4 linked regions of the Homo sapiens genome follow. The protein of the gene in region 1 purifies or fractionates together with the protein of each later gene. This does not show direct contact. Each region holds a gene or a part of one and is shown in the gene's direction. Other genes may lie near its edges.

Region 1 (3,500 bases):
CAAAAAAGGGAAATGTACTCACCAATCTCACTTAGGAATAACGATATAAAAAATCTAAAATAAAATGTTAACAAACAGAACCCAGTTACACTAAAAAGATAATATATCATGACTAGGTCCAGCCTATGCAAAGGTAGCTGAAGACCGAAAATCCATTAATTAAAAGTTTAATTCAGGGGCTGGGTGTGATTGGCTCATGCCTGTAATCCCAGCGCTCTGGGAGGCCAAGATGGGCAGATCATTTGAGGTCAGGAGTTCGAGACCAGCCTGGCCAACGTGGTGAAACCCTGTCTCTACTAAAAATAAAAAATTAGCTGGGCATGTTGGCACACGCCTGTAATCCCAGCTACTTGGGAGGCTGAGGCAGGAGAACTGTTTGAACCCAAGAGGCAGAGGTTGCAGTGAGCCAAGATCACGCCACTGCACTCCAGCCTGAGCGACAGAGCGAGACTCTGTCTTGGGAAACAAAACAAACAAAAAAACACAGTCAAAGGAAAAATGCAATGACACTTAAAAATGAAAACAAAACAATCCCAGCAAACTTAACTTTGTTCCTAATAAGAGAATACCAAAATTAATCTCTGTCCTTGAAAAAGGATAATGAGTACTCCAATCACCCAGGTTATGGTCTTTATTTATTTTTAGAGTCTCACTCTGTCTCCTGGGCTGGAGTGCAGTGGCACATTCTTTGCTCACTGCAGCCTCCGCCTCCCGGGTTCAAGCGACTCTCCTGCTTCAGCTTCCCAAGTTGCTGGGATTACAGGCATCTGCCATCACGCCCGGCTAATTTTTGTATTTTTAGTAGAGACGGGGTTTCACCATGTTGGCCAGGCTGATCTTGAACTCCTAGACTCAAGTGATCTGCCTGCCTCAGCCTCCCAAAGTGCTGGGATTACAGGAGCGAACCACTGCAGCCAGCCTCCAGGTTATGGTCTTTAAATGCCATTTCCTGCTAAAAGGAAACAAAGCTCTCTGGAGAAATGGATGAAAACCCACGTCTGGCTCTGGAGAGATAAATGAAAACCCAGGTATGGCACTTCTTGTCACCCAGAAAACAAAGAGGCTTTTGAAGAGCACTGGCGTCCCATTCCCAGGGCCCAGGACAGTGTGAGGGGTTCCTGCCGCCCCGCACAGGACCTTCTGAACAACGTGAACAATGACTACAACGGGTTGAAACTCACCATGTATAGAAAAACCCACAGGCTGGAGTTGCCTTTGGAGGTCTCAGGGGCCCAACTTGTCATTCTGGAAACACACAGAATACAGCACTAATCCTGCCTTTCCTGTATGAACTGCAATTCAGAATAACCAGAAAGTTGAAGTACTTCATATAGCATTTCAGATAATTGAGGAAGAAATTACAAATTAGAAAAATCACCATTTTGCAAACCCTGATGAAACAATGAAGGCAACGATCATCAGTGGATGCTAAAACATTAAACAGTTTATCTATTTTTTTTTTTCTTTTTTGAGATGGAGTTTCCCTCCCGTGGCCCAGGCTAGAGTGCAATGGTGCAATCTCGGCTCACTGCAACCTCTGCCTCCTGGGTTCAAGCGACTCTCCTGCCTCAGCTCCTGAGGAGCTGGGATTACAGGCACCTGCCACCACGCCCAGCTAACTTTTGTGTTTTTGGTAGAGATGGTGTTTCACTATGTTGGCCAGGCTGGTCTTGAGCTCCTGACCTCAAGGGACCCACCGGCCTCGGCCTCCCTAAGTGCTGGGATTACAGGTGTGAGCACCCATGCCCGGCCAAAAAACTTTTTAAAAAGTAAAGAAAATTTTTAAAAGGTATAGATGAAATAAGATTGGCAAAATTACATTAAAATGATTGAAATTGGAGGAGGGGGTACATGGAGTTCATACTCTTTTTATAAAAATCGGTTTTTTATCATGAAAAATTTCAAAAAGAAAATGGGTACCCATGACCTGTTTTTCGTCTCCAGGTGCCCGTAGTCATTCCCGTCTTGATGACACTCATCTCTGTGTTTTTGGTTCTGGCTCCAATCATCAGCAAGCCCACCTGGGAGTACCTCTACTGTGTGCTGTTTATATTAAGCGGCCTTTTATTTTACTTCCTGTTTGTCCACTACAAGTTTGGATGGGCTCAGAAAATCTCAAGTAAGTACCAACAGAAGGGCCGCTTGGCCTCTGTGAGGTGCAGGCAGGCACGGCGTCCTCACCTGTCCTGACTCCAAGACCTCTGTCACAGTGTCTCACCCTGCTGGCAGATCTCCCTCGTCCCAGGAGGACACATGCCCACGCCCTCACTGTACACCTCTGGGTCCACCCTTGATTGTTTTGTTCCTGTCAATTACTGTAATAAGTAGGAAGGGAAAGCACCATTTTCTTTTCTTTTTGGAGACACAGTCTTGCTCTGTTGCCCAGGCTAAAGTGCAGTGGCATGGTCATAGCTCACTGCAGTCTTGAACTCCCGGGCTCAAGCCATCCTCCCACCTGGGCCTCCCAAGTAGCTGGGACCACAGGCACACACTACACCTGGCTATTTTTTTTACTTTTTGTAGAGAAGGAGTCTCGCTAGGTGGCCCAGACTGGTCTTGAACTCCTGGGCTCAAATGACCCTTCCACCTTGGCTCTCCAAAGTGCTGGGACTACTGGCCTAAGCCACCGTACCTGGCCGTTTTTCTTTTTCTTTCTTTCTTTCTTTTTTTTTTTTTTTTTGAGACACAGTCTCACTCTGTTGCCCAGGCTGGAGTGCAGTGGTGCGGTCTCAGCTCACTGTGCAACCTCCACCTCCCGGTTCAAGCGATTCTTGTGCCTCAGCCTTCCGAGTAGCTGGGATTACAGGTGTGCACCACCACGCCCAGCTAATTTTTGTATTTTTAGTACAGATGAGGTTTTACCATGTTGGCCAGGCTGGTCTCCAACTCCTGACCTTAGGTGATCCACCCACCTCGGCCTCCCAAAGTGCTGGGATTACAGATGTCAGCCACTGCGCCCGGCCCATTTTCTTTGTTTTGAGATGGAGTTTTGCTCTTGTTGTCCAGGCTGGAATGCACTGGCACGATCTCGGCTCACTGCAACCTCTGCCTCCCACGTTCAAGCGATTTTCCTGCCTCAGCCTCCTGAGTAGTTGGGATTACAGGCGCCTGCCACCACACCCGGCTAATTTCCTTGTTGTTGTTTTGTATTTTTAGTAGAGTCGGGGTTTCATCATGTTGGCCAGGCTGGTCTTGAACTCCTGACCTCAGGTGATCCACCTGCATCAGTCTCCCGAAATGTAGGGATTACAGGCATGAGCCACTGCGCCCAGCCCCATTTTCTTTTTAATTGCGAAAGACACACAACATAAACGTTTCTATCTCAGCCACTTGTCAGTGTAAAGTTCAGTAGCATTAGGCATATTCCCACCATCATGCGTCTCATCCTGAAACACCATTCTCCTTTGTCTGATATGCAGACATCATCTAAGAGGCCTAGCAGCATTGCAAAGACACACAAAAAGTCATGGCCTTGGCCTGGGGAACTGGGCTGGGGCCCA
Region 2 (3,130 bases), on another chromosome or scaffold:
AGATAAGAAACATATATGGCAAACACATTGTTAAGAAGTAAGAGCTGTTGATCTAGAGCTATTATAATTCATAGCATTGTAGCAGGCTATAAAAACCCAGTAAGATGACAGAGTTATATGATGTGAGTGAGGAAGTTGCCATAGTCAGCACCAGGGTAATGTGGCTGGTTTGGCTAACTGTCCTTCACCTTTACACTTCTGAAAGTGTATGCCTAGTCTGTGACACTGACCTCCCCAGTTGGAGGAAACTTCTTACGTCAAAGATATACTCTCTTGTTAGCCTTGACATATCATAAATTCTCCCCTCACCCATTCAAAGATTGTATTTTCTCAATTTAATAAAAGTTGAGGAAAATTTTTTAATAAATATAGTTAAACTCAAGTAGATAAATACGTGTCAAATGACAACTTTTTATAGTAGAAGCTGAAAAGGTATAGGCCATTATGTCTAATTGAAAGTCCTATAAAGCTCAATGTATTTCGATTTTGAGGTTTAGAATGAGAAAGACTTTCCTCCTGCAAACAGAGAAGTTGTTTTTCAGGTCTTAGTTTATTTTAAAATAGAAGTAGCCTTTTGGGGGAACAGAATGGCCTTACTGTTAACTCCAGTATTTAAAACCAACAAAAGCAGAGTTGTAATGTTGACTTGGGGCTGAGGGGATTAGATAACTCAACACATTCCTTCCCGCTTCTCAGAGCCCTGTGTCCCACCACGCAACACCGGGGCACTGTGCAGAACCCAGTTTGGTACTTGTTGAATTTGCTGTGAAGACCAATTAAGGTTGATGAATGAATTAGTTGACATGAGCCCTTTCCAACATAGTCCATTGAATAAATGAAAAGACACATTAAATTATAATAATAATAAATGCATATAAATAAATATAACACAATCCTCTTAAGATTTATTTTCAAATGTGACAATAACGTATCTCTTACAGGAAACTGAAAGCTGAAGACAACCAAGAGGCTTATGAGATCTAATGTGAAAATCATCACTCAAGATGCCTCCTGTCAGATGACACATGACGCCAGATAAAATGTTCAGTGCAATCAGAGTGTACAAATTGTCGTTTTTATTCCTCTTATTGGGATATCATTTTAAAAACTTTATTGGGTTTTTATTGTTGTTGTTTGATCCCTAACCCTACAAAGAGCCTTCCTATTCCCCTCGCTGTTGGAGCAAACCATTATACCTTACTTCCAGCAAGCAAAGTGCTTTGACTTCTTGCTTCAGTCATCAGCCAGCAAGAGGGAACAAAACTGTTCTTTTGCATTTTGCCGCTGAGATATGGCATTGCACTGCTTATATGCCAAGCTAATTTATAGCAAGATATTGATCAAATATAGAAAGTTGATATTCAACCTCACAAGGGCTCTCAAAGTATAATCTTTCTATAGCCAACTGCTAATGCAAATTAAAACATATTTCATTTTAACATGATTTCAAAATCAGTTTTTCATACTACCCTTTGCTGGAAGAAACTAAAAATATAGCAAATGCAGAACCACAAACAATTCGAATGGGGTAGAAACATTGTAAATATTTACTCTTTGCAAACCCTGGTGGTATTTTATTTTGGCTTCATTTCAATCATTGAAGTATATTCTTATTGGAAATGTACTTTTGGATAAGTAGGGCTAAGCCAGTTGGATCTCTGGTTGTCTAGTCATTGTCATAAGTAAACCTAGTAAAACCTTGTTCTATTTTTCAATCATCAAAAAGTAATTATAAATACGTATTACAAACAAGTGGATGTTTTTAATGACCAATTGAGTAAGAACATCCCTGTCTTAACTGGCCTAAATTTCTTCTGGTAGTGTCAGTTCAACTTTCAGAAGTGCCACTTAAGGAAGTTTGATTTTTGTTTTTGTAATGCACTGTTTTTAATCTCTCTCTCTTTTTTTTTTTTTTTTTGGTTTTAAAAGCACAATCACTAAACTTTATTTGTAAACCATTGTAACTATTAACCTTTTTTGTCTTATTGAAAAAAAAAATGTTGAGAAGCGTTTTTAACCTGTTTTGTTAATGCTCTATGTTTGTATTTGGAATATTTGAATAATGACAGATGGTGAAGTAACATGCATACTTTATTGTGGGCCATGAACCAAATGGTTCTTACTTTTCCTGGACTTAAAGAAAAAAAGAGGTTTAAGTTTGTTGTGGCCAATGTCGAAACCTACAAGATTTCCTTAAAATCTCTAATAGAGGCATTACTTGCTTTCAATTGACAAATGATGCCCTCTGACTAGTAGATTTCTATGATCCTTTTTTGTCATTTTATGAATATCATTGATTTTATAATTGGTGCTATTTGAAGAAAAAAATGTACATTTATTCATAGATAGATAAGTATCAGGTCTGACCCCAGTGGAAAACAAAGCCAAACAAAACTGAACCACAAAAAAAAAGGCTGGTGTTCACCAAAACCAAACTTGTTCATTTAGATAATTTGAAAAAGTTCCATAGAAAAGGCGTGCAGTACTAAGGGAACAATCCATGTGATTAATGTTTTCATTATGTTCATGTAAGAAGCCCCTTATTTTTAGCCATAATTTTGCATACTGAAAATCCAATAATCAGAAAAGTAATTTTGTCACATTATTTATTAAAAATGTTCTCAAATACATCTTTCTTTCTTGTGTTGATTTCTTTTTTCATTGTGTGCTGATCAAATTTATTCCATTTAATCACAAAGTCGTTCTGTCTTAACATTTCACCCCTGTATTATCAGATGAGTGAAAATTCTCAATTAGTTGTATGAATAACCAGGCTTTACTGTAAGCAAAATTTTACCTAAGTCCTCTGAAATTAAAAATGTAAGATCAGTCAAGACCTAGAAGTGAATAATTGGATCAGAGACTAAGTCTTCTTTAATATTAAGGGTATATTATTTTTGTTTATGTATGTGTATCTGAGTTTCAGTTAATCTATTTCATCTATTTCTAAAATAATTGGGATTCAACTAGATAAATGTGATTTGTAAAGTTTGAGCCACCTATGTTCTGTCAGCAAGAAAATTAATTATATAACTCTGAAATGCTTATCAGTAACTATCTGCTTTCTTGTTACGAATTCACGTAAAATTTTAACAATACCTATCATATACCAGGTTATACATTATTAAAG
Region 3 (3,003 bases), on another chromosome or scaffold:
TTTGTTTTGTTTTGTTTTGTTTTGTTTTGTTTTGAGACAGAGCCTCACTTTGTCGCCAGGCTGGAGTGCAGTGGCGCGATCTCGGCTCACTACAACTTCCGCCTCCCGGGTTCAAGCGATTCTTCTGCCTCAGCCTCCCGAGTAGCTGGGACTACAGGCGTGTGCCACCACGCCCAGCTAATTTTTGGTATTTTTAGTAGAGATGGGGTTTCACGATGTTGGCCAGGATGCTCTTGATCTCTTTACCTAGTGATCCGCCCACCTCGGCCTCCCAAAGTGCTGGGATTACAGGCGTGAGCCACTGCACCCGGCCCAAATATTTAACATTGACTGTATGCCAGGGACTCTGCTGGGCACTGAGAGTGCAGCAATGAGGAAGAGCAGGGCCCATTCTCAGGAAGCTCAGGGGTGGGAATGGGAGGAGGGAATCAGAAGCAAGCCAACAGGGACAGTGTGGGGTGGGGGTCAGCTCAGCACACTGTAGGAGTCCCAAAAAGTGAGGAGACCTCTAAGCTGAGTCCTACAGGAGAAGCAAGAATAGAAGCAGGGCAAAGATGGGGGTCGGCCCATCATTCCTAGACGAAAGGCAGAGTTTGAGAAGTGGGGGCCAGATTATTTTGGAATCTGCCAATAGTGTATGGGGAGGTAGGGGTGACTTTCCCATAGTGGAGTGTGGGCTTCCTTGGAGGATTCAGGCTGTTGGGGAACAGGAGGGATGGTAAACTGCCTTTCAGCAGGGCTTGCTTCTAGGAAATTGATTCTGGCTGCAGTGAGCGTGGAGGCAGGCCTGGATTCCAGGCAGGCTTCTGCCACGTCCCAGCTGTGTGGCCCTGGACAAATCATTTCCCTCTCAGAACCTCATTGTCCTTGTCTGTAAAATGCAGACAGCAGTTGCAACGATCAAAATAAATATTTATATAAAGCACCTGGAACATAACAGGCACAGAGGGAGGGAGGAAGGCTGTGAAGCTGCCTCTGCCCCTTGCCCTGGGTCTTCCCCCACCCCTCCTTTCTTAGCTCCCCTGAGGTCACAAGAGTGTTCTTGACCATTGTTTATCAGGGAAAGATCACATGGAGAAGCCAACAGAACGGCCAGGAAGCAGCCTGGGTGGAACAGGGTTGGGGAGGAAAGGAACATGGGTACATTCTCAGCGTTCCAGGAGGTCTCAGGGTAAAGGCTGCTTGTGTGGGCAAGGGGAGCCTGGCAGGGAATGAGCTGGTCCCAATTCCTTCCCCTGAGCTGGGCCCTCAACCTTCAGAGGTGCTCCCTGGGACTGGTCCTACTTCCTCTGCCACCTCTGATCCCAAGGTGACTCTGCCAAAATCTGGGGGATGCCAGCGCTTGTGACGGTGTGACCAGGGAGGGGAAGTGTAAGTGTCTGGCCGTCCGTGGTGGCGGGGCCAGCAGGCTGTCCCAGCCCTCACCCGGAGCTCCTCACCCGGCACCACATCTGTGTTTTCCCAGGACCCACGCAGCCACCCAGCCTCAGCACTCATCTGCGCAGCCATGGAGGCCCTGGGACCTGGGGGCGACCGCGCCTCCCCGGCCTCGTCCACTAGCAGCCTGGACCTGTGGCATCTGTCCATGCGCGCGGACTCGGCCTACAGCTCTTTCTCCGCAGCCTCCGGCGGCCCCGAGCCGCGCACGCAGTCGCCGGGGACAGACCTCCTTCCTTACCTAGACTGGGACTACGTGCGTGTGGTTTGGGGCGGCCCGGGCCCCGCCCCGCCCGACGCTGCCCTTTGCACATCCCCGCGGCCCCGGCCCGCGGTTGCAGCCCGCAGTGGGCCGCAGCCAACAGAGGTCCCGGGGACCCCGGGACCACTGAACAGGCAGGCCACCCCGCTGCTGTACGCGCTGGCGGCCGAGGCGGAGGCCGCGGCGCAGGCTGCCGAGCCGCCCAGCCCGCCGGCCTCGAGGGCCGCCTACCGCCAGCGGCTTCAGGGCGCGCAGCGGCGAGTGCTCCGGGAGACGTCGTTCCAGCGCAAGGAGCTCCGCATGAGCCTGCCCGCCCGTCTGCGGCCCACTGTCCCAGCGCGGCCCCCGGCGACTCACCCGCGCTCCGCCTCGCTCAGCCACCCGGGCGGGGAGGGGGAGCCGGCGCGCTCCCGGGCTCCCGCGCCAGGAACTGCCGGCCGGGGTCCCCTCGCCAACCAGCAGCGGAAGTGGTGCTTCTCAGAGCCAGGAAAGCTGGATCGTGTGGGTCGGGGCGGTGGGCCGGCGCGGGAATGCCTGGGTGAGGCCTGCTCCAGCTCTGGCCTCCCTGGGCCCGAGCCCTTGGAGTTCCAGCATCCGGCGCTGGCTAAGTTTGAAGATCACGAGGTCGGATGGCTGCCCGAGACGCAACCCCAAGGCTCCATGAACCTGGACTCCGGGTCCTTGAAGCTCGGTGATGCCTTCAGGCCCGCCAGTCGGAGTCGGAGCGCTTCAGGCGAAGTCTTGGGTTCCTGGGGAGGATCAGGAGGGACCATACCCATTGTCCAGGTATGGAAGTCAGGAGATGCAGGCTGGTGAGGGGAGCATCTGGGAAACAAAACTTGAGCCACATTTCAGTCGACTGTTCACCCTTCCAGGCTGTTCCCCAAGGAGCAGAAACCCCCAGACCATTGTTTCAGACCAAACTTTCCAGGTGAGAGACACGGACCACTCTGGACCAAGTTGGGGGGAAGCAGCTTGCATAGCTTTTGCCCAAAAAATGAAAGGGCTTCCTACCTACCCTCAGTCTGAGCCTTCTGGTTATTTTGAAAATACCCTACTGTCTCCCTGGTGCAACACCAAGAGCTTCCTTCCTTTCACTGTGGTCACTATGGGGTCCCTGCCTCCAGGTTCTTGCCTCAGAAAGAGGCTGCGGTGATGTATCCTGCAGAGTTACCCCAGAGCAGCCCTGCTGACAGTGAACAGAGGGTCTCAGAGACCTGCATTGTGCCTGCCTGGCTCCCCTCCCTTCCTGATGAAGTGTTCCTAGAAGAGGCCCCACTGGTCAGAATGAGATCACCACCAGA
Region 4 (3,500 bases), on another chromosome or scaffold:
CACCACACCCAGCTAATTTTTGTATTTTTTGTAGAGACGGGGTTTTGCCATGTCACCCAGGCTGATCTTGATCTCCTGAGCTGAAGCAATCACCTGCCTTGGCCTCCCAAAGTGCTGGGATTACAGGCATGAGCCGCCATGCCTGGCCAGCTCATCTCCTTCTTAACTTTGTTGTTTTTGTTTTTGTTTCTTTGCCCTTGCTCTTTTTCATACTCACCCTTTAGATAAGTAGTTCTCAAACTTTACCTTGTACAAAAATAATTGGGGAATTGGGAGTTGCTTGCTTAAAATGCAGATTTCCAAGACACCCAGAGTATCTGATTCAGTAGGTTGGTGGTAAAGCGAAGGATTCTACATTTTTATCAAACTCCTTGGGAGAGTATAATGCAGGTAGACCACACATAGTCTAAGAAATTCAGTTTTAGATATTGCCATCCTTCCAGCTTCTGTTCCAGTTTTTTTAAACTCTGTACATACACCTGAGCATCAGTTACCATATGTATGCTGAGAGTATCTGCATTCCTTTTGTAACTTAGTTTTTTTCTCCAGAGTTGTAGATTTAAGACCTTTTTTTTTTTTTGAGATGGAGTCTTGCTCTGTCGCCAGGCTGTAGTGCAGTGGCGCAATCTCGGCTCACTACAACCTCCGCCTCCCAGGTTCAAGCAATTTTTCTGCCTCAGCCTCCCGAGTAGCTGGGACTAGTTCACGTCAGAAATCTAGTTGTCTTTAATTCCTTAGTCTCCCTTAGCCATCACCAAGATCTTTGTTTTACTAATTATATTTTACTTCTTCCCATAGCTACTATCATTACTCTAATTCAGGCCACCTTATTATTGCCGCAGCTTCCTGTTCTTCTCCTTTGTTTTATTTAATTAAAAATTTTGAAACCATCCTGGGCAACATGGTAAAACCCCATCTCTACTAAAATACCAAAAAATTAGCCGGGCATGGTGGTGCGCACCTGTAATCAAAGCTACTCGGGAGGCTGAGGTGGGAGAATCGCTTGAGCCCGGGAGGTGGAGGTTGTAGTGACCCAAGATAGTGCCACTGTACTCCAGCTTGCGTGACAGAGTGAGACTCTGCCTCAAAAAAAAAAAAAAAATTGAATTCAGAAATAATGCATGGCATTGTAAAAATAAACATCCACCATGCCAGCATGGGAATATTTAATAAAGTGAAATCCCTCCACCTCTATGCACTCTCACTCCCCAGGGAAAGCTACCTTTAATAGTTTGGTGCATATCCCAGGATATGGTCCAAACTCTTTCTATTGACAAGGTTTTGGTGGCAGGGAGGGAGACAGATTCTCGAACATATCTTATGTGACCTGGCCCTTCCTCTCTAGCCTTATCTCGGGTCATCCTTGAGTACCCCACCCTAACCCTAGAGTAACACACACAGCCATACTGACTTAGCTTTTGTGAGCATCCCCAAATATGCCGTGTTCTCACTTCTTCTGGGCCTTTGCATATGTTGTTCTTCCCCCAACACTCGAGTCTAGCTGAGTCATACTCGTCATAATATAAACATCATTTTCTCAGTGAAGCTTCTGGTATGCCCAAATTTGAATAAGCTGTTCTATGTGCTTCCATAGCATCCTGAATTCCTTTATGAAAGGATCTACCATACTGTGTTGGGCCTACCTACTTAGGTAAATGCCACACTAGACATTTCTCAATGAATCCTTATAGTATTCAGTAATATTTTAGTCATCTGGGGACTAAGCCTAAAAGAAGCCTCAGACTTCCATGTCTTTAAAGCTTTGAGTCACGCATTATTGAATCAGCCCGTAGGCCCTCAGAAAAGGTGCACAGTAGATGAGAAGAGCCATAATTTCAGAGATCATTCCTGCTTACCTACTGTAGTCATGTTGTGTTATGCAAGGGAAATCATCCTCGCTGTCTTTGTACCAGTTTAGATATCTAAAAGGTCAACTTTAATGCGCAGGCATCAAAAAGCAAAAAGTATGGGGCAACAAGAGACAATGAAAAAGATAAGCAGAAGAAAATAATCAGAAAAAACAGAGGCGTGGTAGATGAGAAATGGCAGCTGCACTGTTGAGGAGGGATTAGAACCAGCTGTGGGGTTCAGCAGTTGTTGCAGTTTAGAAGTCACTCTGGTGAAAGTAAACAGAAGGCGCTCTGATAGTGAAGAATAAATAAGAGGGCTCACGAGCTGCTCACGTCAAAAATTAGAACAACTTTGCATTCCAAAATGTTAAGGAGCAGGGTGTAAGCTAAAACCTGCGTCTCAGCTGTACTCCTTGATAGCAGAAGTGAAAACAAGGGGAATGTCTGTGTGTGTGTGTGTGTGTGTGTGTGTGTGTGTCTCTTTTACAGACAGACACCCTAAAAGAGTTATCTGTGCTCGTGGAGTCTCCTCTCTCTTCCTTTTTTAAGCCCCCTCCAATTCATCCTTCATCCCTATAACTCTTGTCAAGATACCCAGAGCCTATGCTCAGTTCTCACTAATCTTAAGTTCTTAGCAGCCCAGCATTTGTCTTCATATCTTACTCAGCTATTTTCTTACATGCTTACCTAAAAGAGTGGCTGACACATAGTATACACTGAGGAAACACTGAGTAAGGGAGAGAGAATGTGTGCAACTAAGCAACTTTTTACACCTGTAATAGCTCTTACATGCATTAGCATACAGAAGAGCCAACACGTATTCCTGGTTTTTCTTCTCAGTCCCTGGCCCTGACTTCTCATTTTCTTCTGCTGAATTCACCTTTTCTTGATGAGTCTTAGGTGTTGGTGTGCCCCTTTTCTTCCCTCTGTACATATGTTCACCAGATGATCTTTTGCAGTCTCGGGGCATAAAGTACCATTTATATTCTAAAGACTCTCAAATCTTACGTGCAGTTTCAACTTCTTCCTGAACTTCAGACTCATATATCCAACTGCCTACTGAACATCACCATTTAGTTGTCATCACAAATACATCATGTCCTAAACTAAACTCTTGATTTTCTACCCCACCACACCTGATCTTCCCCCATTCACAAAATTGCCCAGGTCCAAAATTTTGGTATCTTCTTGACTCTTTCTCATATCTCAAACCCAACGTAGTAATAACTTGTCAGCCCTACTTCCAGAATGTTTCCTGAATCCAGCCATGTCTTTCCACCTCCATTTCTGTAATTCCAGTCAATACTGTCTTCATCTCTTTGCAGAACCTATGCAGTGGCTTCCTACCTGGTCTCCTTGCTTCTACTTTTGTCCCCTAGATCTGTTATCTCCAGAGCAGCCAAAGTAATCTCTTAAAAAGCACAGCTGGTCATGTCACTCCCTTTGGGATAGGAGGGAAACAAAGAACATCAGAAAATCTTCAGTAGTTTCCCATCATACTTAGATTAAAATCTGGAGTTTTCCTTATGGCCTACAAGGTCCTGTAAGATCTAGAACCTGGCACCTGTCTTCTCCTCCAGCCTCAGACACCACTTTCTTTCTTGTGTGGTGTGGTGTGCTCTGCCTCAGCCATACCAGCCCTCGGGATGT

What was found. The genes of interacting proteins can lie anywhere in the genome.
Region 2: the proteins of SLC7A9 (region 1) and ROBO1 purify together in Homo sapiens (affinity purification with mass spectrometry; one large-scale study listed by BioGRID and IntAct). This does not show direct contact.
Region 3: the proteins of SLC7A9 (region 1) and SHROOM1 purify together in Homo sapiens (affinity purification with mass spectrometry; one large-scale study listed by BioGRID and IntAct). This does not show direct contact.
Region 4: the proteins of SLC7A9 (region 1) and TTC17 purify together in Homo sapiens (affinity purification with mass spectrometry; one large-scale study listed by BioGRID and IntAct). This does not show direct contact.

What each region holds. Positions count from the first base shown.
Region 1 is NC_000019.10:32,831,768-32,835,267, reverse strand, and holds part of SLC7A9 (B(0,+)-type amino acid transporter 1), read left to right. Parts: intron 1-1,944; coding exon 1,945-2,119; intron 2,120-3,500. UniProt on the Homo sapiens protein: Associates with SLC3A1 to form a functional transporter complex that mediates the electrogenic exchange between cationic amino acids and neutral amino acids, with a stoichiometry of 1:1.
Region 2 is NC_000003.12:78,596,739-78,599,868, reverse strand, and holds the end of ROBO1 (roundabout homolog 1 isoform a precursor), read left to right. Parts: intron 1-941; coding exon 942-956; 3' UTR 957-2,630; downstream 2,631-3,130. UniProt on the Homo sapiens protein: Receptor for SLIT1 and SLIT2 that mediates cellular responses to molecular guidance cues in cellular migration, including axonal navigation at the ventral midline of the neural tube and projection of axons to different regions during neuronal development.
Region 3 is NC_000005.10:132,824,645-132,827,647, reverse strand, and holds part of SHROOM1 (protein Shroom1), read left to right. Parts: exon of another isoform or gene 1-40; 5' UTR 41-187; exon of another isoform or gene 188-1,060; 5' UTR 1,061-1,371; exon of another isoform or gene 1,372-1,465; 5' UTR 1,466-1,507; coding exon 1,508-2,485; intron 2,486-2,574; coding exon 2,575-2,630; intron 2,631-2,826; coding exon 2,827-3,003. UniProt on the Homo sapiens protein: May be involved in the assembly of microtubule arrays during cell elongation.
Region 4 is NC_000011.10:43,365,420-43,368,919, forward strand, and holds part of TTC17 (tetratricopeptide repeat protein 17 isoform 1 precursor), read left to right. Parts: intron 1-3,500. UniProt on the Homo sapiens protein: Plays a role in primary ciliogenesis by modulating actin polymerization.